Regions from separate parts of the Homo sapiens genome. Here all the other regions are linked to region 2. The links come from fine-mapping of genetic effects on gene expression. A gene starts in region 2. Each other region holds a variant in brackets. All regions are shown on one strand. Distances are from middle to middle.

The links. PIP is the estimated chance that this variant, and not a neighbour inherited with it, causes the effect.
Region 1: its variant is fine-mapped to the expression of RHOT1 in blood mononuclear cells (TOPMed, PIP 0.96). The same link has a PIP of 0.9 or more in whole blood.
Region 3: its variant is fine-mapped to the expression of RHOT1 in whole blood (INTERVAL, PIP above 0.99).
Region 4: its variant is fine-mapped to the expression of RHOT1 in blood mononuclear cells (TOPMed, PIP above 0.99). The same link has a PIP of 0.9 or more in aorta, tibial artery and transverse colon.
Region 5: its variant is fine-mapped to the expression of RHOT1 in whole blood (TOPMed, PIP above 0.99).

Annotation. Positions count from the first base shown.
Region 1 is chr17:32,186,952-32,191,951 of GRCh38, forward strand. All of the region lies in intron 8 of RHOT1 (ras homolog family member T1), which reads left to right. Among named protein-coding and RNA genes, the nearest start is that of RHOT1, 47 kb to the left of the region's middle. The variant C/A (reference allele first, on the strand shown) is at 1,885.
Region 2 is chr17:32,139,576-32,144,693 of GRCh38, forward strand. RHOT1 (ras homolog family member T1) reads left to right here and starts at 2,927. Exons shown (of 20, transcript NM_001033566.3): 1 at 2,927-3,154. The coding sequence starts at 3,118. LOC105371730 (a long non-coding RNA gene) reads right to left here and starts at 3,560. Exons shown (of 2, transcript NR_136413.1): 1 at 3,450-3,560; 2 at 1,651-3,138. RefSeq lists an enhancer at 2,258-2,427 and silencers at 2,888-3,117, 3,148-3,207.
Region 3 is chr17:32,239,824-32,244,953 of GRCh38, forward strand. It overlaps LOC124903979 (a long non-coding RNA gene), which reads left to right and starts at 3,661. Exons shown (of 2, transcript XR_007065709.1): 1 at 3,661-4,230. RefSeq lists a silencer at 967-1,261. The variant G/A (reference allele first, on the strand shown) is at 3,094.
Region 4 is chr17:32,073,427-32,078,556 of GRCh38, forward strand. No RefSeq gene overlaps it. Among named protein-coding and RNA genes, the nearest start is that of VILMIR, 7.0 kb to the right of the region's middle. The variant G/A (reference allele first, on the strand shown) is at 1,887.
Region 5 is chr17:32,252,778-32,257,907 of GRCh38, forward strand. LOC124903979 (a long non-coding RNA gene) reads left to right here. Exons shown (of 2, transcript XR_007065709.1): 2 at 308-597. Among named protein-coding and RNA genes, the nearest start is that of RHBDL3, 10 kb to the right of the region's middle. The variant G/T (reference allele first, on the strand shown) is at 2,063.

The sequences.
Region 1 (5,000 bases), 47 kb after region 2:
GGTTGTCTTTTTTTAAATTATTATTAAAGGTAATTTTTATTTTAAGAAGCGGGGGCCGGGTGCAGTGGCTCATGCCTGTAATCCCAGCACTTTGGGAGGCTGAGGCAGGGGGATCACTTGAAGCCAGGAGTTCGAGACCAGCGTGGCCAACGTGGCAAAACCCTGTCTCTACTAAAAATACAAAAGTTAGCTGGGCATATTGGCGCATACCTGTAATCCCAGCTACTCGGGAGGCTGAGGCACGAGAATCATTTGAATCTGGGAGGTGGAGGTTGCAGTGAGCTGAGATTGCACCACTGCACTCCAGCCTGGGCTACAGATTGAGACTCTGTCTCAAAAAAAGAAAGAAAGAAACAGGTCCTTGCTATATTGCCCAGGCTGGTCTTGAACTCCTGGCCTCCTCCTGCCTCAGCCTCCTGAGTAGCTGGGATTACAGGTGTGAGTCACCACACCACCACACCCAGCTTGAGGTGATTGCTTTGATTCTGTTTGTCGGGAGAGGTATTGTTTTTAAGAATAAAAAGTTGCAGATATCTTTCAGGAAAAGTTTATAGTATAAGTGAGTGGTTAGCAATGACTCATGGCCTACCACCTATTTTCACAGTCTGTACACTAAGGAAACATTTTATATTTTTATTTATTTATTTATTTGAGATGGAGTCTCGCTCTGTTGCCCACGTTGGAGTGCAGTGGTGTGATCTCAGCTCACTGGGTTCAGGTGATTCTCCTGCCTCAGCCTCCCAAGTAGCTGGGACTACGGGCATGTGCCACCACATCCAGCTAATTTTTGTATTTTTGGTAGAGACGGGGTTTCACCATGTTGGCCAGGCTGGTCTCGAACTCCTGACCTTAGGTGATCTGCCTGCCTTGGCCTTTCAAAGTGCAGGGATTACAGGTGTGAACCACTGTGCCTGGCCATATATTTTTAAATGATTGAAAAAAGTCAAATAATATTTTGTGATAGGTGAAAATTATATTACATTCAAATTTTATCATTTCATAAAAATAAAGTTTGATTGTAACATAGCCATGGTCATTCTTTTATGTTATCTGTGGCTGTTTGTGTGCTGCAAAGGCAAAGTTTAATAGTTTCAATAGAGCTTATATGTGCTACTCTCATCTCTTCTCACTGCTGCTGAGTGCACTACTAATTGCGCTGACACACTAGACAGCATTTCAAGTACTATGTATATCACTCTACCAGGACCTTTTATTTATATTCATTGCATACTCATCATGCCAAAGCATGAAAAGAATAATAAAGTGTTTTTTAGATGGGAAAGCAGATAAATATTCCAGGTTCAAATTACAGTTCCAGCATCATCTTTTTAGACCTTGATGCAAATGCAAAGGAAATTTCCATATTTTGTAATCCACTTAACTATGCAATTGAGTTTCCATTAACCTTCAATTGGAATTGATTAATCTGCAGTGTAATGACATGCTAAAAGGCAAACATCAAGAAAATAATCAAATATAATTTTATAAATACCTTGTGCTCTATAAAGTCATAGGTTTGTGGATATGTACCAGTATTGGCAGTATATATTTGTGCAAAGAGACATTTTCAAAGATGGGACATGTAAAATCTCATTACAGATCAGCATTAACATATAAACATTTGCAATTAATTTTCATGGTGGACAACACTAACTTCAAACCCCAACAAAGCAAAATGTTTTCCTTCCAAAAAGAATTTCATTCTTCTCATTAATAAATCTGTATTGCAAAACTGTACTCAGTTATATTTTGAGTTTTGTCAAAAAAACTTTGTAGAAGTTTGATTTCTTTCTTACTATGTAAGTACCTACATGACATGCTTGATTTTGCCTGTTGGCCCCAAAGCCTAAAATATTTGCTATGTGGTCCTTTACAGAAAATGTG[C/A]CAACTCCTGGTATAAATAATTAATTTGAGTTATCCCTTAATCTGGTGCTAGTTTACTCTTATTCCTGGTTTACTTTTCCTTAGTTAGGATTCTTCTTTCTAATTTACTCCGAATCCAGTATTTCCCAAACTTACCTCATCGTAATAGTCACTAAGTGTTACTTGTTAAAAACATAGATTCTGGCCGGGCAAAGTGGTTCACGCATGTAATCCCAGCACTTTGGGAGGCCAAGGCGGGTGGATCATGAGGTAGGATATCGAGACCATCCTGGCTAAGATGGTGAAACCCCGTCTCTACTAAAAATACAAAAAAATTAGCTGGGCGTGGTGGCGGGCACCTGTAGCCCTAGCTACTTAGGAGGCTGAGGCAGGAGAATGGCATGAACCCAGGAGACGGAGCTTGCAGTGAGCCGAGATCGTGCCACTGCACTCCAGCCTGGGCGACAGAGCGAGGAGACCCCACCTCAAGAAAAAAACAAAACAAAAAACAACAAAAAAACACATAGATTCCATTCTGATTCAGCTAGGTGTTGTATTTATGATACAGGAAATTTGGGAAACAGTCTTAATACTGTGGGAACTCTTACAAGAATTTACCTCTGAGGCCTTAGCCTAGCAGTATATGAAATCCCCTCTATTAGTTTGTTCTCAGTTTTTTAATTGTTACTTTGTTCTCGGGCCTGTTATTAGTTCTGCTAATCTGTTAATCCCTCATCCCCACCCCCATCCCACAAGAGTAAAATATCTACCACCATCTGTTACTCAGTTCTTAGGTGGACCTGAGTGAGAGGTAAAATTTTCAACTTTTAAACTATACCTTGTTTTACACAAGTGCAAACTTTAAATTGCCTATAACGGAATCTTTTATTTAGACAACAACAATATCTTTTCTTTTCTTTTCTTTTTTTTTTTTTTTTTTGAGATGGAGTCTCTGTCTCCCAGGGTGGAGTGCAATGGCACGATCTCAGCTCACTGCAACCTCCGCCTCCCAGGTTCACATGATTCTCCTGCCTCAGCCTCCCAAGTAGCTGGGATTACAGGGATGCACCACCATGCCTGGCTAATTTTTGTATTTTTAGTAGAGATGGGGCTAGCCTGGTCTCAAACTCCTGGCCTCAAGTAATTTGCTCGCCTTGGCTTCCCGAAAGTGTGTGAGCCACCACGCCCAGCCAAATACCATAATTTTTTATAGCTTTATTAAGTAGAATTTTTAATACTTTTTAGTAGTCCTTTTTTGGTGTTACATTTTCAGGTGGTTAGTTTTTAAATATGACATTGGGCCAATACCTTAGAGCTCTTTAGCTTTGCATTTCAAGCTTTAATGAAAAGTGCATCGTTGGCCGGGCGCAATGGATCATGCCTGTAATCCCAGCACTTTGGGGGGCCGAGGCAGGCAGATCATGAGGTTAGGAGATCGAGACCATCCTGGCTAACATGGTGAAACCCCGTCTCTACTAAAAATGTGAAAAATTAGCTGGGCATGGTGGCAGGTGCCTATAGACCCAGCTACTCGGGAGACTGAGGCAGGAGAATCGCTTGAACCTGGGAGGCAGAGGTTGCAGTGAGCCAAGATCGCACAACTGCACTCCAGCCTAGGCGACAGAGCAAGATTCTGTCTCAAAAAAAAAAGGAGAAAAGTGCATTGTTTATTTTTCTTAAAATTACTTTTTGAAAATGTATCCCTTTATTATGTGAGGAAAAATCACTTAGACAAAATAAAAGATTAGGTTCTGTTTTGTATATTCTTGCTATTGCTTCTTTTGGAAACATTTAAATTATTAAACTTTTTTAAAAGGAGAGTAAATAAAATATAACAATGTAGTTTTTATTAATCTTTAATGACTAACAGGATCACATTTATAGAAGCATTATCTTACCATTCATTATTTTAAAGAATAAATCATGTGTGATTATAGATGTTATAGTCCATTTAGTACTCTTTTATAAGGGAAGCCCCGTCAGATGCTTTCTTTTTTTTGAGACGGAGTCTTTCTTTGTCTCCCAGACTGGAGTGCAGTGATGGAATATCGGCTCACTGCAACCTCTGCCTCCCGGGTTCAAGCGATTCTCCTGCCTCAGCCTCCCAAGTACTGGGACTACAGGCACATGCCACCACACCCAGCTAACTTTTGTATTTTTAGTAGAGACAGGGTTTCGCCATGTTAGCCAGGCTGGTCTCGAACTCTTGATCTCAGGTGATCTGCACTCCTCGGCCTCCCAAAGTGCTGGGATTATAAGTGTGAGCCACCGCGCCCAGCCTCAAATGCTTTCTAAATGTTTGACTTCTTTTTCTCGTTTCTTTCTCTTTGTATCTTAAGTTTTATCTTTTTCTCACTATATCAAATTACTCTCCCAGAGACCCCATTTAAAACAAGAATAGAAGGGGTTAACTGTGTATGTTTGGAAGATAATTATTTTCTTTCCTATTTTTTAAAGAATTTCTTTTCTGCATTTGAGTTTGATAGCATGATCAAAGCTGTCATCATTACCATTTTGTAAGTTAATAAGTTTATATTTCCTCACCTTGACATCTCATTTCTCTGATTTAGATGATCTAAATAAAGATCTATCTCCAAGCTTAGACAAAAGTCAGAGCTCTCCTTGAAGTTTTATTCTCAAAATTGTTGATAGTGATTACCCTATAGTGGTTATACAGTGTAGAAGCATGTGGGCCTTATTTTAAAATAGTCATATATTTATTCTATCCATGATGAATCATAAAACAAAAATGAAGGAAATTGTCAGAATATATTTCCAGCAGCATTAGTCATAAAAGTTTTAGAGTCACAAAAGGCAAAATTCTTTTTAAAGTATAAATAATTCTTATACTAGGAAGTTAGTAAAAATTTTTTACACTTATTAACCAGTGATAATTTTGCCACTTGTTTGTGAATAAGCGTATTTTATTTCCCAGCTTTAACATACACACAGGGGAAAGATCAAAACAAATCTCATTCTGCTACCAGAAGTCTGATGATCAGAAATCAGAAGTTGAGGGGAAAGTCCTTAGTAGTTTTAAAAGTCAGTTCATATCCTCTATGGAATGAGGGAAGATATAAATAAATAAACAGTTCTTCTTTCTGTGACTAGAAAAATGAATCCCTCCTAAAGATGAA
Region 2 (5,118 bases):
TCCCAAGGTGCTAGGATTACAGGTGTGAGCTATTGTGCCCGGCCTAGTCAGATTTTTATTTTTTTTTATTTAGAGACAGACTCTGGCTCTGTCACCCAGACTTGAGTGCAATGGTGCCATCATAGCTCACTGCAGCCTCCAACTCCTGGTCTCCAGTGATCCTCCCACCTCAGCCTCCCAACTGGGACTACAGGTGCATGCCACCACGCCCAGCTAATTTGTTTATTTTTTGTAGAGATGGGGTTTCAATGTTTCTCAGGCTGGTCTTGCACTCCTGGCCTCAAGAGATCCTCCCACCGCAGCTACCCCAAGCTTTGGGATTATAGGTGTTGAACCACCATACCTGGCTGGATATGGATTTTTAAGTAAGTTTTATTTACAAAGGAGTTCTTTGCAATATTGTATCTGTGATGTCCCTCTAAATAAATGCTTTTTCCAAGCCCCTGCCTACCAGACATTACCCAGTACACATCTACAACCCCACGAAGACCTTGTTACTGCTCACCCTCCTGGAGAAGCCCCAATGAGTCAACATTGTCATTAACTGGCAACGCTGATTGAGAGCTCTTAGGGATCTAGATTCTTCACAAAGCTGCATGGTGCAAGCAGTGCCCTAAAGAATTTGCCCCTCTGTAAAAGGCTTTTGTCCTCTGTGCTCTGATATTTGTGTAACTTGTTTTTTGTTTGTTTGTTTTTTAGGAAAAAGATTTACAATTCATTACATTATTCACATAAAATACATTATTTTATGAGCTCCTCCAAACAATTTCATAAGAGATCACAGCCTTCACTTGGTAGAGAGGAAACTGAGGCACAACTAGGTGACATGAGTTGCCTAGAGTCATGCACTAGGAATGGCAGAGCAAAGCTCAGCCTCAGCCATGCCGTCTGTGCCAGGTCATTGCGTCTCTGTGGGCCTTGCTTTTTTTTTTTTATCTACAGAGTAACGGGATTGGAATAGGAGCTCTGTCAGGGTTCTTCCAACTCAAACATTTTGTAACACTAAAATTCTGAGGGCTACTTTTCCCTGAAAGATCAGGTAACCAAGCCTCCTGAATTTCACATTTCCACTCATTGAGGTGTGGGGGGAGGAGGGAGATGAAAGCACCTTATTTACATCTACCCAGGAACGCGACTTCATTATCTCTCAGTGAACAAGGAGTATGTCTTTCCCATCTCCCTCTTTTTCCTAACACGGACAGGGATAGAGTTGTTTTTGAAAGGGCTTTCTCCCCTGTGCTCCTTATGGACATCAAATAACTAAGATGGTGAAATTCTGCAGTAAACACAACAACATATTTGCCTCAAAACCTGTGGATTAGGCTGGGCGCGGTGGCTCACGCCTGTAATCCCAGCACTTTGGGAGGCCAAGGCAGGCGGATCACGACGTCAGGAGATCGAGACCATCCTGGCTAACACGGTGAAACCCCGTCTCCACTAAAAATACAAAAAAAAAAAAAAAAAAATTAGCCGGGCGTGGTGGCGGACGCCTGTAGTCCCAGCTACTCGGGAGGCTGAGGCAGGAGAATGGCGTGAACCCAGGAGGCGGAGCTTGCAGTGAGCCGAGATTGCGCCACTGCACTCCAGCCTGGGCGACAGAGCGAGACTCCGTCTCAAAACAAAACCAAAACAAAACAAAAAATCTGTGGATTACAACTTTTTAGTGACTTTTTAATATAATAATGATAGCTGAGATCAGTAGAGCACACGCTCTGAGTCTGGCACTGTACCAAATGCTTGACAAGTATTATAGTATTTATTACTCACAACCATCTCAAGAGGAAGGTATTATCATCATTATTTCCATGCTACAGAAGAAGGAACAGTGGCTGAGGGAAGTAAAAATAAAAGCACTTAGTCGAGATCACAGAGCTATTATGTGGAGCCTAGATTCAAACCCAGGAAATTTGCCAGCAACTCTTAACTGCTGCAAGAGACCACATGACTTCTCCTAGGAGAAAGGGAAGTTGGTATTACGCACATTTCATTCCCTTTAAGTGTTTATTGTGTAATATTTAAGATAGAAAAAATGTACATTATGCACAGATAGTGCTTCCTCATTAATTTATGTATTTTATATTTCCCACTGTGTGCCAAGTATTAGGGATGTGATATATATTCGCACGCGTATGTATATATATATATTTGCCATTGTGTACCAAACATTAAGCATGTAACAACAAATTCCTCCAGATGGAGAGGGTCACGAGAAAATTAAGGCAATGTTAGAAAAATCATCTAGAGTTTATTATCGAGTGCCACCTCCGTGTCTAGCATTACGCTGGGTAAGCCTGAGTAAAGAAGAGTGTCCGAAAACCCTGCCATAAAATAAACTACATAGACAGAAAAAAAGTCACTTAGTTTGGTTATAAAGAAAGGAGTCTTGTTCACACAGCGTAAAAACGAATCTTATAATCGTATTTTATAAGCATCAGAGGCAAAAGCAACTAGGGTGACGGGCTTTGGGGAGTGGAAAGCGCCGGATCCTGGGAGCCAGTCGCCCTACTCGATCAAGCATTTTCTGACGGCCCTATCCAATAACGTGGGGACGCAGCTGAAAACCATGCAAGCTGATCGCTGCCCTCCCGGAGTTTATGGTCTGGTGAGAAGATCCCTGCTCTGAGTCACTGCCAAGCTCTAGCTATGTGACTTTGAACAGGGAATTTCTGTCCCTATCTATAAAATAAACGGGGTTAAACCAGGGAATCCGCCATTCAAATTCCTGGCCCAAGTGTCTCCGGGGTCGCGGTGCCCAAAGGAGGGTGGGCGAGGCTCCCTGGGCCTGCGCTGCGGCGGCCTGACAGCGGGAGCGCTGTTCCGGCGCAGAGCGCGTTCGCGTTCCGAAAGCGCGTGTCCCTCGCCGCGTGCCGTCGTCCCCGCCGCCGCCGCCGCCGCCGCCGCCGCCGCCGCCGCCGCCGCCGCCGCCACAGCCCGCTGGGCCGGAGGAGGCGGAGCTGGCGCTGTCCCGGCTCTCTTGCGGGGAAGCAACTGAGGGGGCGGCGCGGCGGGCCCCGGCGGCCGAAGAGGCTGGCAGGTGGCGCCGTGGGGTGGGTGCTCCTGGTGAGAGGAGTCCACTCCGTGCGTGCGGGCGGAGGCCGGCCCCCGAGAGCCGCCGACATGAAGAAAGACGTGCGGATCCTGCTGGTGGGAGAACGTGAGTCCGCACCCTCTGGCCGGCCCCTGAGTCCCTGCCCTCCCTGCCCCTGCAGCCCCTGTCGCCCCTGTCGCCCCTGCAGCCCCAACCTTTGCAGCCCCGGCCCTTCTCGCGCCTCACAGCTCCGCTCGCCTTTCTCCGCGTTCCTAGGCCTTCCAGCCCCTTCACTCTTCTCTTTTGGCTGGCCGCCGGCGGCCCTCACCCTGTCACCTCACCTGGGCCCTCCAGAGATCTCCTTTCCCTGTTCCCCAGCCGTCCTCCCAAGCCATGTCCCTATTAGCCCTAACCGCCCGACCTCATCCCTCCGAAGCTTCTCTCCTCCTTTTCCTCTTCGAACCCTGTCCTTCTGGGCCTCACAGTTTCCCAGGCCGCCTCCTTTCAGACCTTCTTGTCTTCTGGAGATTCCCTTATCACTGCCAGGCAGGTGCTGGAATAAGCAGACTGACCAATAGGGATTGCGTGAACCGGCTCCCGGGGAAGCTGGGGGAGGGGTGCAGAACTATTCGACTTGTGGGCAAGGTCAGGTTTCTGCATTTTTTTGGCACTCGCAGTCTTCACTCTCTCTATGTATTGACATTAAGATATGAGTAGTGGAAAGGGCCGGATCCTTTTTAGCAGTACTTGTACTTTGCATTGGACTAACTCCTCGTACTCGAGATATTTCATCAAAAATTTTTACTCAACTTCGAGTTATGCAAGCGCTCAATGAATTAGAATTATCTGGGGAGGGTCCAATTGTTGTTACCCTAAAGCGTAATCTTTGCCCTCTTTTTAAGCATTATTTATTCCATAGTTACTTCGTAGTTAACTTATTAATAACCACAGGCACACAGACATTTGATATCTCCCCCCACCCAGAAATTTCATACATTTCACCTTTTGAAAATATAATAAAGGAGAGTTCCCTCTGTTCACTGACATGAGGACGCAACAGCGGGGACTTCTTGATTTCACTCTGCAAGTTATGTAACTCAGTTGCTAGGACTAAAATAAGAAAGTGGGCCAGGGATAACTGGATTGTTTGTTTTAAAGAGTTAATACATTCGTTAATAGTCTGCCATTGCTGTTTCGAAGCATTCTGTTTTAAACCATTATTTCATTCTTGGTAACCCCTCAGGGTCACCGTGATGGAATCCCAAGGAAGAAAGTTAACACGTTTTTACCCTCTTCTGTAGTGTTCTTTGAGTTCATTGAAATTTCATCCACCTGCTGTTTGGAGAAATCTTCCTTTAGAATTAGAATTTAGGAGTAAGCTTAGCCAGCCATAGTTTACTTTTTGATTTGCAGTTGTAAATTTTTATTTTTATTTATAACTATATCTTAATCTGTATTTTTCATGGACTTCCTTGACAAGGTTCAGGAAGGTGTTATTTAACATATAATTCATGCTTATGCTTTTGGAGCAAGGTAGGGAAAGTGAGTAGACGACTTGCTTAAAAAACTGATCCTTAAATATATGATGAAATAGTTTGTTGTTGTTGTTGTTTTGAGACAGAGTCTCGCTCTGTCACCGAGGCTGGAGTGCAGTGCCTGGGATTACAGGCACTGTGGCTCATGCCTGTAATCCCAGCACTTTGGGAGGCCAAGGCAGGCAGATCACTTGAGGTCAGGAGTTCGAGACGAGCCTGGCCAACATGGTGAAACCCCGTCTCTACTAAAAATACGAAAATTAGCCGGGTGTGGTGGCACACACCTGTAGTCCCAGCTACTCTGGAGGCTGAAGCAGGAGAATCACTTGAACCCTGGAGGAGGAGGTTGCAGTGAGCTGAGACATGCCAGCCTGGGCAGCAGAGCAAGACTCTGTCTGAAAAAAAACCTTTAATAATGCTCCCACACAGCTGGGTGAGGTGGCTTATACCTGTATTCCAAGCACTCTGGGAGGCTGAGGCAGGAGGATCACTTGAGGCCAAGGAGTTTGAGACCAACCTGGGCAATGTAGTGAGATCCTGTCTCTACAAAAAATT
Region 3 (5,130 bases), 100 kb after region 2:
AGAAACATGTACTTGGAGCCTCCTTTGTATAAAGTGCTGGGCTGTATGTGGTGAGAAATAGAGATGAAATAGTTATGGGGGAGATGCCTGATTCAAAGATCTTCCAATACAATAGGGAGAGGTAATATGTAAATAAGCATCTACTATAGGTAGAAAAATAAGACCTATAAGAGATAAAATCAAGTGCAGGCCAGGCGCGGTGGCTCACGCCTGTAATCCCTGCACCTTTGGAGGCCGAGGCAGGTGGATCACCTGAGGTCTGGAGTTCAAGACCAGCCTGGCCAACATGGTGAAACCCCATCTCGACAAAAATACAAAAATTAGCCGGGCATGATGGCAGATGCCTGTAATCCCAGCTACTCGGGAGGCTGAGGAGGCAGGAGAATCGCTTGAACCTGGGAGGTGGAGGTTGCAGTGAGTCGAGATCGCGCCATTGCTCTACAGCCTGGGCGAAAGAGCGAGACTCCATCTCAAAAAAAAAAAAAAAAAAAAACAAATGCAATGGGAATTCAAGCAGAGGGGAGATTTTCTGCTGTTGAGGAGCTCCCAGAAAGCTTTTATGGAGGAGGTGGTGTTCACCTTGCCCCATAACAATTCATACATAAAGAATATTTAGTTAGTTTCATTTGGCCTGAAAGAATTCAGGTACCTGTGTGCCTCACGCTTCTGGGGCTGGAGATCAGTAATCACTTCACTGGATAAATTTCCTCCAGTTTGGTATGTAAAAATTGAGACACATACTTTCTATAAAAACTGTCAAAGTACAGCTGAATTTGAAAAAATATGCTGTGTAATAATGTGCTTGGAACAGAATAGGTGTTCATTTCAAGCAGCATGAACGCTGTGCTCACCTGTTATGTGTAAGTGGCAGCTGAAACATGTACCAGATTATAACTCTGCCACCAGCCAGGTGCAGCTGTAGCATCTTACATTGTCATCAGGATTCTTCCACATTTTAGGATCCACGTTTTGGGAGTGAGAGTTACTGTTTGCCAAAAATGACCTCCCAAGCCCAAATGAAGAGGACCTACTAGCGCAGCAGTCAGCGAGAAAGAATTGGGAGATGCCTGTCACTGGCAGAGAGAGCCTTCCTTATGTGGTCAGGACCATGGAAAGCCCAAAGCCAAGGGACCTGGGAAGTCAGCCAAGGACGCTTGCCTGGGTGTCTCCTGGCTGGTTTCTCTGTGCTGTGGAGCCACCTATGTTTAGAACCTCTTGCCGCGCTCCCTCTGCTGAGCTTATATTTATGCTAGATCAAATGTTTAAACTGCTTTTCTCTTTGTGGATCACAAATTTTAGAACAGAAAATGCGGGTTCCGGAGGGTGTGAGAGACAGGGACAACCATATGTATTGCTTCAGTAGATGCTTCAGAGAAAGAAGACACTTAGTTCTCTAGTTGTTCACCCAACCCAATACGGTTTCTGCTCCTTAAGCTACATTCCTATAAAGATTAGCTTTCAGCTGCTACCACCAAGAAACAGTTCAAGTGCTGCTTATGTTGTATTTTAACTAAAGATCTCAAGAACAAAAAGAAATCCCTAGATGCTGACATTCCAAGCAAACTTAGGTCAGGGGTGGAGGCGGGGAATTGACAGATAAAGATTTCGGTGAGCAGGCAGTTCTCACCTTAGGTGAGTTCACAGTGTGCAGGGGTGCTTGGTGGGATGGTATCCATTTCTTTCATCTTTGAGAGATTTAAGGGGTGCTTACAATAAGGGGATACCCAATCTGCCTATCCTGACACATTCAACACGAGTTCTTAAATTCTCAGCTAATGGGTTGGATTCCCATTCATTTTATAGGCAGGATGGCTCTATTTGGATGACCCTTCTCAAAAAGTAAAAACAACAAAGGCAAATAAATCCTTCCGAGAGAGAGTATGAGGCTATGGCAGACAAGGTAAAATGCCTGTCACAGGAGATAAATTATTTTGCTCATTAACAAGTCATTTGTCCTTTGATTTCTCAAAGCCCTAGAGAAACAGGAGCTCAGCTGACAATGACCTGAGGGGACCCCTACAGTGCTTCAAACAGTGGATGGAGGAGGAGATGCCTTCCTGGTTAAGAAATTATCCCTGAGCCCTTGTAGAGGACAGTCCAGCACAGGAAATTCTGGAACTACAAGATGAAAATGTGTGCCAGCATGCTTCTACTTTCAGGGTACAGTCTGAGGCCCTAGGGAGGAGGAGTTCCTCAAGTGCTTTGACCTCTTGCCAGGACAAAGACGGAGAAGTATTTAGAAGCATCTGAATTTGTTAGCTCTTCAGTTTTCCTCCTCCACTCCCTACCCTGCACACAGAGCCTCAGAAGGACAGACCAGCTTCACCCCCTTACCAGCAATTACTGAAGAATCACACCCCACCCACCTCAGGATCACTGATCTCCTTCCTATATGGGAACCCTGACCCTTGGAGAAAAACCGCTGACCTACAAACTCCCCACATTCACCTAGAGAGCACCAGAGCAGAGTTCTGAGTGAGATAAGCAGTCCTTTAGGGGGATCTGTTTTTCCAGCTCTCATTTTTCCCCCCTTATTTCCTTTATCTCTAGAATTCTAAGAGCTGTACTGTTCATTGTTTCTACCCATCATTATTAAGGGAGAGATATGGAAACATTCCCATGGTAACAGTTTCATCTCAAAATATCTGAATGCTATTAGCTGCCTTTCCACTCCAGGGAAAAGATGAGATTTTTTTTTAAAAAAAGAAATCTTTATTCTCAGGATATAGTTGACAGGTCCTCTCCACACTGCAGGGAGGCCTGCCCAGATCAGTGGAGATGGGAAAGGGCTCATAAAGCCAAATTTGTTTCTTAGCTGACTTCACTTCCTGAACATTTCAAAAACTTATTATTACATGGTTCTGACACCGACCCAGAGAATTGCTGGTGGAAGTACTGATGAAAACACCAACATCTCTGGGGGAAGTCATCAACTGGGAGCATATGAGATGGGCCAGCACAGACTTGGCTCAAAGACCCACAGACCACACTGTGTTACTGGAGAGCAACAGGTTTGAACAAACTCAGAGGTATGCGCTGGTTGCCATCAGAAAGCTGGGGAGAGAAAATGGGATAGGAAGCGTTGTACCTCAT[G/A]TTCATGACACGCTTTATGGCTGGCCAAGGGCTTTTCCTATTGAAATGGGATGATGGAGGAGATAGGACACATTTATCTTAAACATGCATCTTAATTATCTATTGCTGGCGGGGTGTGGTGGCTCACACCTGGAATCCCAGCACTTTGGGAGGCCAAAGCGGGTGGATCACTTGAGCCCAGGAGTTCGAGACCAGCCTGAGCAACATGGTCTCTATCCATCTCTACAAAAAGTTAAAAAATTAGCCGGGTATGGGACTGCACGCCTGTAGTCCCAGCTACTCAGGGGGCTGAGGTGAGAGGATCTCATGAGCTGAGGAAGCAGAGGTTGCAGTGAGTTGAGATTGTGCCACTGCTCTCTAGCCTGAGTGACACAGCAAGACCCTATCTCAAAAAAATATATTTTATATATATAATATATATAATATTATGATATATATTATATAAAAATTATATATATAATATATAATATATGATATATCATATATGATATATGATATATCATATATCATATATATCATATATCATATATATAGCTGCATGACAAATTATTCCAAAACTTGGCAGCTTAAAATAAACATGTTATCTCACAGTCTCTGTGGGTCAGGAATTTGGGAGCAATTTAGCTGGGTGATTCTGGCTCCAGGTCACTAATTAGATTGTATTCAGACTGTCAACCAGGGCTGCAGTCACCTGAAGGCTTGACTGGGGCTGGGAGATCCCTTTCCAAGATAGCACATTAGCCATTGGCAGGAGGCCTCAGCTCCTCACCACATGGGCCTCTCTTCACAGCGCTGCTTGAATGACATGGCAGTTGGCTGACCCTGGAGCAAGTGACCCAAGACATAGAAAACAGGAGGAAGCTGCACTGTCTTGTTTGACCTAGTCTCAGAGGGCACACATCATTGCTTCTGCCATATTCTGTTCTATAGAAGCATGTCACTAAGTCCAGCACACATGTTTGGGGAGGGGAATCGAGCCACCTCTTGAAAGGAGAAGTATCAAGGACTCTGTGAACATGTTTTAGGACTATGATGTCATGGCAGTTATGAAAACTAATGTGTCAGTGCTGTATGTACTGATATGAAGCAATCTCCAAGATGTATCTTCAGTGACAACAGCATGATGCAGAACGCTAGGTAAGTCTGGATACTATTTGCAGTTTTAAAAAGGGAGGAGGGAGCCAGGCGCGGTGGCTCACGCCTGTAATCCCAGCACTTTGGGAGGCCAAGGCGGGTGGATCACAAGGTCAGGAGATTGAGACCATCCTGACTCACACAGTGAAACCCCGTCTCTACTAAAGAAACACAAAAAATTAGCCAGATGTGGTGGCGGGCACCTGTAGTCCCAGCTACTTGGGAGGCTGAGGCAGGAGAATGGCCTGAACCCGGGAGGTGGAGCTTGCGGTGAGCCAAGATCGCAACACTGCACTCCGGCCTGGGCAACAGAGCGAGACTCTGTCTCAAAAATAAATAAATTAATTAATTAATTAATAAAAAAGGGAGGAGGGATAAATATGCAGTTATGCATAGACTACCTCTCAGAGGACATACAATAAACTGGCCTCAAGGAGGAGGGCTGGGGACAGGTGGGAGAGAGATTTGTTTTCTGTACCTTTTGGATTTTATTTGAGCAAGTATTACTCTTTGATAATAAAATTTAATTTCAAAAATAGATTAAAATAACATAGAAATAAATAACATTGTTGAAAGAACTTAGAATGACCAGTTTGAGATGGAATTTTTTTTTTTTTGAGGTGGGGTTTCACTCTTGCCCAGCAGGGAGTACAGTGACACGATCATAGTTCACTGCAGCCTCGCCCTCTCAGGCTCAAGCACTCCTCCCACCTCAGCCTCCCAAGAAGCTGGGACTACAGGCACATGCCACCACACCTGACGAATTTTAAAAAATTTTTAGAAGAGGTGAGGTCTTGCTAGATTGCCCAGGCTCAAATTCCTGAGTTAAAGCAGTCCTCCTGCCTCAGCCTCCCAAAGTGCTGGGATTACAGGCATAAGCCATTGTGCACCTGGTTGGAATTC
Region 4 (5,130 bases), 66 kb before region 2:
CAAAGGATACAAAGTTTCCAGTAGGAAGAGTAAGTGCTGGTGATCTGTTGCACAGCAAGGTGGCTATAGCTAATCATAATGTATATTTTTTTCTTTTTCTTTCTTTTTTTTTTTTTGAGACAGAGTCTCTTTCTGTTGCCCAGGCTGGAGTGCAGTGGCACAATCTCAGCTCAAGGCAACCTCCACCTCCCAGGTTCAAGCAATTCTCTGCCTCAGCCTCCTGAGGAGCTGGGACTACAGGCGCCCGCCACCACGCCTGGCTAATTTTTATATTTTTAGTAGAGACAGGGTTTCACCATCTTGGCCAGGCTGGTCTTGAACTCGTGACCTCATGATCCACCTGCCTCGGCCTCCCAAAGTGCTGGGATTACAGGCGTGAGTGACTGCGCCCCGCCCCATAATGTATTTTCAAACTTGTGAAATGAGTGGATTTTAAATGGTCTCCCTATAGGGTCTGGTGCGGTAGCTCACATGTGTAATCCCAGCACTTTGGGAGGCTGAGATGGGAGGATCACTTCAGCCCAGGTGTTCAAAACCAGCCTGGGCAATATTTTACAGAACCTGTCTCTAAAAAAACAAACTGTTCTTGCTACAAAGAAATAAGTATGTGAGGTGATGGATATGTTCATTAGCGTGACCTGCTTTATAATATATACAGTATTGAAACATCATATCATAGTCCATAAACGTATGCAATTACTTGTCAATTAAAAATAAAAATTAGGGATCAGATGTGGTAGCTCATACCTGTAATCCCAGCACATTGGGAGGCCAAGGCGGGTGGATCACTTGAGGTCAGGAGTTTGTGACCAGCCTAACATGGTGAAATCCCAACTCTACTAAAAATATGAAATTAGCTGGGCGTGGTGGCACGCACCTGTAATCCCAGCTACTTGAGGGCCTGAAGCAGGAGAATCGCTTGAATCCAGGAGGGGGAAGTTGCAGTGAGCCAAGATTGTGCCATTGCACTCCAGCCTGGGCAACAGAGCAAGACTCTGTCAAAAAAAAAAGAAAGAGGCTGGGCACGGTGGCTCACACCTGTAATCCCAGCATTTTGGGAGGCCAAGGTGGGCAGATCACAAGGTCAGGAGTTTGAGACCAGCCTGGCCAACATGGTGACACCTCATCTCTACTAACAACACAAAAATTAGCCGGGTGTGGTGGTGCGCACCTGTAGTCCCAGCTACTCAGGAGGCTGAGGCAGGAGAATGGCATGAACCTGGGAGGCAGAGGTTGCAGTGAGCCAAGATTACCTAGTGACAGAGCAAGACTGTCTCAAAAAAAAAAAAAAAGAGAGAGAGAGAAGGAAGGAAGGAGAGAGGGAGGGAGGGAAGGAGAAAGAAAGAGGAAGGAAGGAAGGAAGGAAGGGCTGGGCGCAGTGGCTCACGCCTGTAATCCCAGCACTTTGGGAGGCCGAGGCGAGCAGATCATGAGGTCAGGAGATCGAGACCATCCTGGCTAACACGGTGAAACCCCGTCTCTACTAAAAATGCAAAAAGTTAGCCGGGCGCGGTGGCGGGCGCCTGTAGTGCCAGCTACTCAGGAGGCTGAGGCAGGAGAATGGAGTGAACCTGGGAGGCGGAGGTTGCAGTGAGCCAAGCTTGCAGTGAGCCGAGATTGCGCCACTGCACTCCAGCCTGGGCAACAGAGTGAGACTCTGTCTCAAAAAAAAAAAAGAAAGAAAGGAAAGAAAGAGAGAGAGAAAAAGGGAGGGAGGGAGGGAGAGAGAGAGAGAGAGAGAAAGAGAAAGAAAGAAAAGAAAGAAAGAAAAAAAAGAAAAGGAAAGAAAAGAGAAAAGAAAAGATCTTCACTGTGGTCTGGCTTCCATTGCTAGTCGTTGTGTCTGCCTGGTTGAAATGTCCATCTTAGCATTCTGTTACTCTATC[G/A]GCATTCAGCTCTGGTAGTCACTGGTGTGACATTATTGCATAAATGTTCCTGGCCAACAGAGAAGGGGAAAATTTGTAGAAGGGAAGAAAGAATGGATGAGGGAGCATGGGTGGAAAACTTAAGGGTGGTCTGAGCTATACCCAGGAAGCCTGGGATTGGGAAAACCCAACTCTCAGCGCCCTTGGGGCTAAGAGCAACATAAGGTTTAGCAGCCTTAGTAATTTCTTTAAAATCTAAATTGGGGCCGGGTGCAGTGGCTCGTGCCTGTAATCCCAGCACTTTAAGAGACGGAGGTGGGTGGATCACCTGAGATCAGGAGTTCGAGACCAGCCTGGCCAATGTGGCGAAACTCCATCTCTACTAAAAATACAAAAATTAGCTGGGCATGGTGGCAGGCACCTGTAATCCCAGCTACTTGAGAGGCTGAGGCAGGGATAATTGCTTGAACCCAGGAGGTAGAGCTTGCAGTGAGCCGAGATGGTGCCACTATATTCCAGCCTGGGCAACACAGCAAGACTCCATCTTAAAAAAAAAATCTAAATTGGACCAGGCATGTTGGCTCACACCTGCAATCCCAGCACTTTGGGAGGCCAAGGAGACCAGCCTGGACAACACAGCAAGACCCCACCTCTACAAAAAACTTTAGAATTTGCCAGGCAGTCACAAGTCCCACCCAGGTTTAGGAGGTGGGAACACAGGTCCTGTGATATGGTTTGCATTTGTATCCCCCCCCACCCAAATCTTATGTTGAATTGTAATCCCTGGTGTTGGAGGAAGGGCCAGGTGGGAGGTGATTGCATCATGGGGTCAGAGTCCTCCCTTGCTGCTCTTGTGATAGTGAGTGAGTTCTTACAAGATCTGGTTGTTTAAAAGTGTATAGTACCTCCCTGCTCTTTCTCTTGCTCCTTCTCCAGCCATGTTTCCCCTTGGCCTTCCACCATGATTGTAAGTTTTCTGAGGCCTCCCCAGCTATGTTTCCTGTACAGCCCACAGAACCATGAGCCAATTAAGCCTCTTTTCTTTATAAATTACCCAGTTTCAGGCATTTCTTCATAACAGTGTGAGAAGGAACTAATACACCCCGCCTCTCACGAGAGGAGCACCAGCACTTTGTAAGAAGAGCCTATGCAATACGATCAATACCAGGGCTGACAATCTTTGCAAATCACAACCTGTCATTCCTTTCTCACTTCCCAGCTTCCCTGTTGCTATTTCCTGGGATCTGCTCCCAGGTCAACAACTTACCCCTGCAAATCTTTGTCTCAGGGTCTCTGCCTTTGGGAGGACCCAAACTAAGATATCCCACAAAATCAATAGTGTGTTTATATAGCTGGTATAGGTGTATGTAAACATTTAGAAAAAGGTCTGTAAGGATACACTCCAAACAGACAGCAGTAGCTTCTGTAAGGAGGGAACTGGGATGGGGGTTGAGAGGGTTCATGTATTAGGCCGTTGCCTATATGGGTAAATTTGCTGTAAAGAAATATCAAAGAATGGGTACATTTTATTTTATTTATTTTACTTTATTTCACTTTATTTTATTTTATTTGAGATGGAGTCTCACTCTGTTACCTAGGCTAGAGTGCAGTGGCACGATCTTGGCTCACTGCAACCTCCTCCTCCCGGGTTCAAGCGATTCTCCTGCCTCAGCCTCCCAAGTAGCTGTGATTACAAGTGTGTGCCACCACACCGGGCTAATTTTTGTATTTTTAGTAAAGATGGGGTTTCACCATGTTTGCCAGGCTGGTCTCAAACTTCTAACCTCAAGTGATCCGCCTGCCTCGGCCTCCCAAAGTGCTGGGATTACAGACGTGAGCCATCACACCTGGCTAGAATGGGTAATTTATAAAGAAAAGAGGCTTAATTGACTCACAGTTCTGCGGGCTGTACAAGCACAGTGCTGGCATCTGCTTGGCTTCTGGAAAGATCTCAGGGAGCTTTAACTCATGGCAGAAGGTGAAGCAGGAACTTCACATGGCAAAAGCAGGAGCAGGAGAGAGAGTGGGGTGGAGGGGAGGTGCCACACACTTAAACAACCAGATCTCCAGGCCAGGTGCAGTGGCTCAAGCCTGTAATCCCAACACTTTGGGAGGCCAAGGCAGGTGGATCATTTGAGGTCAGGAGTTCGAGACCACCCTGACCAACACAGTGAAACCCCATCTTTACTAAAAATACAAAAAAATTAGCTGGCCGCAGTGGCGCAGGCCTATAATCCTGGCTACTCAGGCGGCTGAGGCAGGAGAATCGCTTGAATCCAGGAGGTGGAGGTTGCAGTGAGCTGAGATTGCACCACTGCACTCCAGCCTGGGTGACAGAGCGAGAATCCATCTCAAAAAACAAACAAACAAAACAACTAATTCTCCAAAGAACTCACTCACAATTGTGTGGACAGCACCAAAGAGATGGCGCTAAGCCATTCATGAGGGATCCGCCCCCATGATCCAATCCCCTCCCACCAAGCCCCACCTCCAATATTGGGAATTACAGTTCAACATGAGATTTGGCAGGGAAACAGATCCAAACTACATCAGTTCATCTATAATATATGATTTTTTATTTATTTTTTTTTTTTTGCCCCGAGGGAGGAAGAATTTTCTGAATCCCTGTGGTTAGTAAAAGAGAGAGGCGGCCGGGTGCGGTGGCTCATGTCTGTAATCCCAGCATTTTGGGAGGCTGAGGCGGGCTGATCACGAGATCAGGAGATCAAGACCATCCTGGCTAACATAGTAAAACCCCGTCTATACTAAAAATACAAAAAAAATTAGCTGAGCGTGGTGGTGCATGCCTCTAGTCCCAGCTACTAGGGAGGCTGAGGCAGGAGAATGGCGTGAACCCAGGAGGCGGAGCTTGCAGTGAGCCGAGATCATGCCACTGCACTCCAGCCTGGGCGACAGAGCGAGACTTCGTCTTAAAAAAAAAAAGAGAGAGAGAGAGCCATGATCAGGAAGCCGTCATGATGACTCGTGGAGACACTGGCCCTGAAGTAGCTGCAACCCTCTTAATACACAGGAAGAAAGGGCTGGGATGCAGGAAGGAAGGGCTGGGAGGCAAGCACAGGCAGCCCCTCTGTGAACCCTCAGGTAGGAGCCACCAGCCATTTTACTGCTGAGTTTAGCATTTGGGGTTGTTCAAGAGTTCAGGGCTTCTGGGAGACTAGAGAATGCCTTCATCTCCAGGGCACTAAAACCTCAGTTACCTAATCTGTGAAATGGGTATGATCATAGCAATCCCACAAAACTGCTG
Region 5 (5,130 bases), 110 kb after region 2:
ACATACTCTTCTAAATATATTTATTCATTAATGACCAATGTATTTCCTGTGAATTGGATCTAGAGACTTGAACAGATTCACGTTCAATTCTGTAGCAAAAATACTTAGGGGGTGCTGTATACTTCCATCAGAGGCAGCAAATATCTGGTTTCTTTCTGTGATGCTAGCCTATCATTATCGCCTAGACCCGCAAATTGACTGACAATTAATTTTAAGGAACAAATGTGGCTGCAATGGCTTTCTGAGTAATACGTGCAGAAAAACACGTCCTGTAAAGTGTATTGTTTGTTTGTTTTTTGTTTTCTAGGCATGAAAACAGCCCTGGAAGTCTGCCCTGGCGCCTGCACTGAGACTAATCCAGGTCACTTTAGGGAAACTGCCCAGCTCTGGCACCGCACTGTGTGTCTGTCAGCTCTGTGGGGTGCTATGGCCTCATTTTCCCACTAGAGGACACTGTGGCTCCAGGACTTCATGTGGCGCCCAGCCAGTCTTGCTACTCCAGCACCTCTAAGGAGGCAAAGCCTTTAGTGTGCATTTATTAGGTACCAACTGGGTGCTTTCTGTATCAAGCAGAGAAATAAAAGAGGTCAAACACAAGGTCCTGTGGCATTGTTTCCTGATGTAGTTTCTTTCTTTTTCTTTTTCTTTTTTTTTGAGATGGAGTCTTGGTCTTGTCGCCCAGGCAGGAGTGCAGTGGCGCCATCTCAGCTCACAGCAACAACTGCCTCCTGGGTTCAAGCGATTATCGTTACTCAGCCTCCCAAGTGGCCGGGATTACAGGCGCCCGCGACCACACCCGGCTGATATTAGTATTTTTAGTAGAGACGGGCTTTCCGCATGTTGCCCAGGCTGGTCTCGAACTCCTTACTTCAGGTGATCCACCCGCCTCGGCCTCTCAAAGTGCTGGGATTACAGGCGTGATCCACCACGTCTAGTCGTGTTTCCTGATGTAGTTTCTTTGCATTATTTTATTTTATGTATTTGTTTATTTTTTGAGACAAGGTCTTACTGTGTTACCCAGGCTGGAGTGCCGTGGTGCAAACACAGCTCACTACAGCCTTGAACTCCTGGGCTCAGACAATCCCCCCATCTCCACCTTCTGAGTAGCTGGGACTACAGGTGCCTGCCACTGTGCCCAGCTAATTTTTAAATTTTTTATTTGTCAGGATGGAGTATCACTATGTTGCCCAGGCTGGTCTCAAACTCCTGGGCTCAAATGATCCTCCCACCTCAGCCTCCCAAAGTGCTGGGATTACAGGCATGTATTTCCCTTTAGAAAACAACAGAGGTGCTTCTCCATCTGCTGGAAACCATTTTAGCCCCTGCTGTAGGATGGCTGCCTCCTGCAAATTCGGTTACCTAGTTGTTTTTTTTTTTTTTTTTTTTTCAGACAGGGTCTCACTCTGTCGCCCAAACTGGAGTGCAGTGGTGCAGTCTTGGCTCATTGCAACCTGTGCCTCCCAGGCTCAAGTGATTCTCCTGCCTCAGCCTCCCGAGTAGCTGGGACTACAGGCGCTCACCACTACGCCTGGCTAACTTTTGTATTTGTAGTAGAGACGGGGCTTCACCACATTGGCCAGGCTGGTCTCAAACTCCTGACCTCAAACTATCCACGCGCCTTGGCCTCCCAAAGTGCTGAGATTACAGGCATGAGCCACCGCACCCGGCCGTTGGATGTTTTTTTTTTAACTGCAATATTTGGGCTTTGGGGAGTGTGAATATATCCAAGAAAGATGCCAAAGTGTATTCATCTCTGAAATAATTTATTCATTTATTCAACTCCATGTATTGAGTATCCTGGGCGGGGAAGGAATGGGGAACGGATGCTTACTGAGAGCTACTCTGTGCCAAGTACTGTCCCATCCTTTTTACCTACATCCTCACAAGATGGGTAATATTAGCCTCATTTAAATCCAAGGAAACTGAGGCTCATTGAGGTTAACCAGCCTGCTGAAAGTTATCCTGCCAGATGCAAATGGAAGTCTAAATGGATAAATATGTATGTTTTCCACCAAATCCCTCAATGCCACACTGACAAGCATGGTACTAGGATGTAGAGAAA[G/T]TAAGATGATTATAGAGACATCCTTTCCTTAAGGAGGTCATCATATAACACAGAAGTTGCAATAAATGGACAATTATAGAACTTCTAATAGGTGGGCACCCTTTCAATAAGTAGCTGACCACGCACAGCCTCCCTCTGCTGCTATGACACTGTCCTTATGCAGAGGTAGGCACTGACCACCAAGAATAGGGCCTCTGCTTGTAGTGATGCCTTTGTGTTGACTGTCCACTCACCCTCACCCCATCACCCCCATGACCAAGGTTTCTGGGGGCAACAGCATGATTCAGGCTATAACCACCAATCCGCATGGAGAATGTAGCAAAGCCAAGACAGACATCTTCCCTACTGCTCAAAATCTCTAGTTTAGGCTGGGCGCAGTGGCTCATGCCTGGAATCCTGGCTTTGGGAGGCTGAAGCAGGTGGATCATTTGAGACCAGTTCAAGATCAGCCTGGCCAACATGGTAAATCCCCATCTCTACTAAAAATACAAAAAAATTAGCCAGATTTGGTAGTATGCTCCTGTAGTTCCAGCTACTTGGGAGGTTGAGGCAGGAGAATTGCTTGAACCTGGGAGGTGGAGATTGCAGGGAGCTGAGATTGCGCCACTGCACTCCAGCCTGAGTGACAGAGCGAGAGTCTGTCTCAAAAAAAAAAAAAAGTCTCTAGTTTAATGGAGGAAGACAAACACAGACATATGCAATACCAGGACAAAGCAATGAGTTCTTGAAAATTCTGTGATAATGCAGCAAATAATTTTAAATGCCCTTCCAGTTATTCATATTTTCTTTTCTTTTCTTTTCTTTTTTTTTTTTTTGAGACGGAGTCTCGCTCTGTCGCCCAGGGTGAAGTGCAGTGGCGCGATCTCGGCTCATTGCAAGCTCCGCCTCCCAGGTTCACGCCATTCTCCTGCCTCAGCCTCCCAAGTAGATGGGACTACAGGCGTCCGCCACCATGCCCGGCTAATTTTTTTTTTGTATTTTTAGTGGAGACGGGGTTTCACCGTGTTAGCCAGGATGGTCTCGATCTCCTGACCTCGTGATCTGCCCGCCTCTGCCTCCCAAAGTGCTGGGATTACAGGCGTGAGCCACCGCGCCCAGCCGGGTTATTCATATTTTCAAGCCCACTTAGCCTGTCCCAGCCTTGTCCCTACTGCCTCATAGTTCGGCCCTGGCAGCACAACTGAATTCATATTGTCAGAGCCCAAGCTGTGTTATTTACTAAAATCTGACCAGTTGCACTAAGGAGAAAATGACAGCTGGCAGCTGGGAGAATGGACTGGCTGGTGTAAGTTGGGAAAAAGAGACACAGGTGGCAGGTGTCTAAAGAAGCAGAGCTGTGGGTGTTTGGAGAGGCCCAATCCCAAATGCCACTTCAGCTTCAGGCAACCACAGCTTCAAGGTTCCGGGAAGGAAGGACAAGCGTGGGTGTGCTCCAGCCACCACCCTCCTCCAAGTGAGTCCTGGGATAATGAATGAGCGGTCAGCCAGAGTCTTTGCTCTCTGATGAAAGGACCTCCGCTGCAGACTGTCCCTCTGCAAATACGATTGTGCCCCAGGAACCATCTGGCAAATGTGCCAGTTCCTTCAGCATTTCTGTTATTTCCGTGACTTTTGGCCCCTTTTTTTCCTGGGATATAAATTGTTGCAGCAAGCCAAGCCAAGCCAGCAGAATGTTTACTGCCGCTTTGCAGGCCTTCTCTGAGCCTGGTTAACCCCATGGCTCACAGCCTATGAGGCTGCTCACAGCTAATGATGTCTTGGATGCATGCGTCTCCCCTCTGCCGTTCTTGTGTATTTTGGAGTATGCAGAGCCAGGCATGTGAGCTGCAGCCCAGAGCTACAGTGACCACATTGAGAAGCTGGGTTTGGGGGAAGTGCATTTCTGTTGCAGGATGTCCTTCACGGAGAAGGGACAGGTTGATTTCATCTCTCTGCAGATGACGTGGACAGCTCCCCAAGGAGCCACAACAGGCCACCCCAGCTGTAGGACAGATCACGTGCTTTGGCTGCACAGGGGAGGATGCCCAACAAACCGAGACGGCCCACGTCAGCCACTGGGCCCCATTTTGCACAGTGCCACGTTCCTCCTCTGACCTGGCCTGATGGTGGGCGAGGCTGAAGAGTTATGGGTCACCTTCAGACCCTTTGAGCCAGCCCCTCAGTTTCAGTCTGCTTCGCTGATTTTCATTCAGAGAACAGATACCGGCATGTGGAAGGGGAGACTTACTCAAGTCACTCATCTCCTTGGTGATGCACTTCATGGGCAGGGAAGCCATATGGAGCCGTCAACCATAAGTCCCCTCATCCCAACCCAGGGAGTACCAGATTGTTCTAAAGGGGGGGCAGAGGAAGCAGTCAATGCAAAGACTCCCCGAATGTCACTGTCAGCCTAACAGTGGACAAGTGGGCAGTTCCAATGCAGATTCACACCTTCCTGCCTTAGTACATGCAGTTCCTTCTGTCTTGAACACATCAGGCCCCATCCACCTGGTGAACTCCTACTCAATCTTTTAAGATCCAGCTCCAGCATCACCTACTTGGACGCCTTAATGCCACCACATCCTTTGCACCCATCTCTACTTGTACCTGTCACATTGCACCTGCAGTTGTTTTTAGCTAGCATGCCTTTTCCACCTGACTTCGAGTTCACTGAGGGCAGAGAACTATGTTTCACTAATCTCCAGGTCTAGAGACTTGGTCTGTAAACGTGTTTATCAGCAGTGTTTTGGAAGGGAAAATCAGGGATTATGGAATTTAGAGATGGATTCTCCTCCAGAAATCTCTTAGTCCCTCCCACTGGTTTCACAAAAGACAAAACTGAGATTAGGAAACTGCCTTCCCCAGGGCCACAAGGCTAAACAGTGACAGAGCTTGGACAAGAGCCTAGGTCTGCTGGCCCCTTGTCCTGCTCTCAGGTACTAAGAAATCAGATCCTGCCGGGCGCGGTGGCTCACGCCTGTAATCCCAGCACTTCGGGAGGCCAAGGCACGCAGATCACCTGAGGTTGGGAGTTCGAGACCAGCCTGACCAACATGGAGAAACCTCGTCTCTATTAAAAATACAAAATT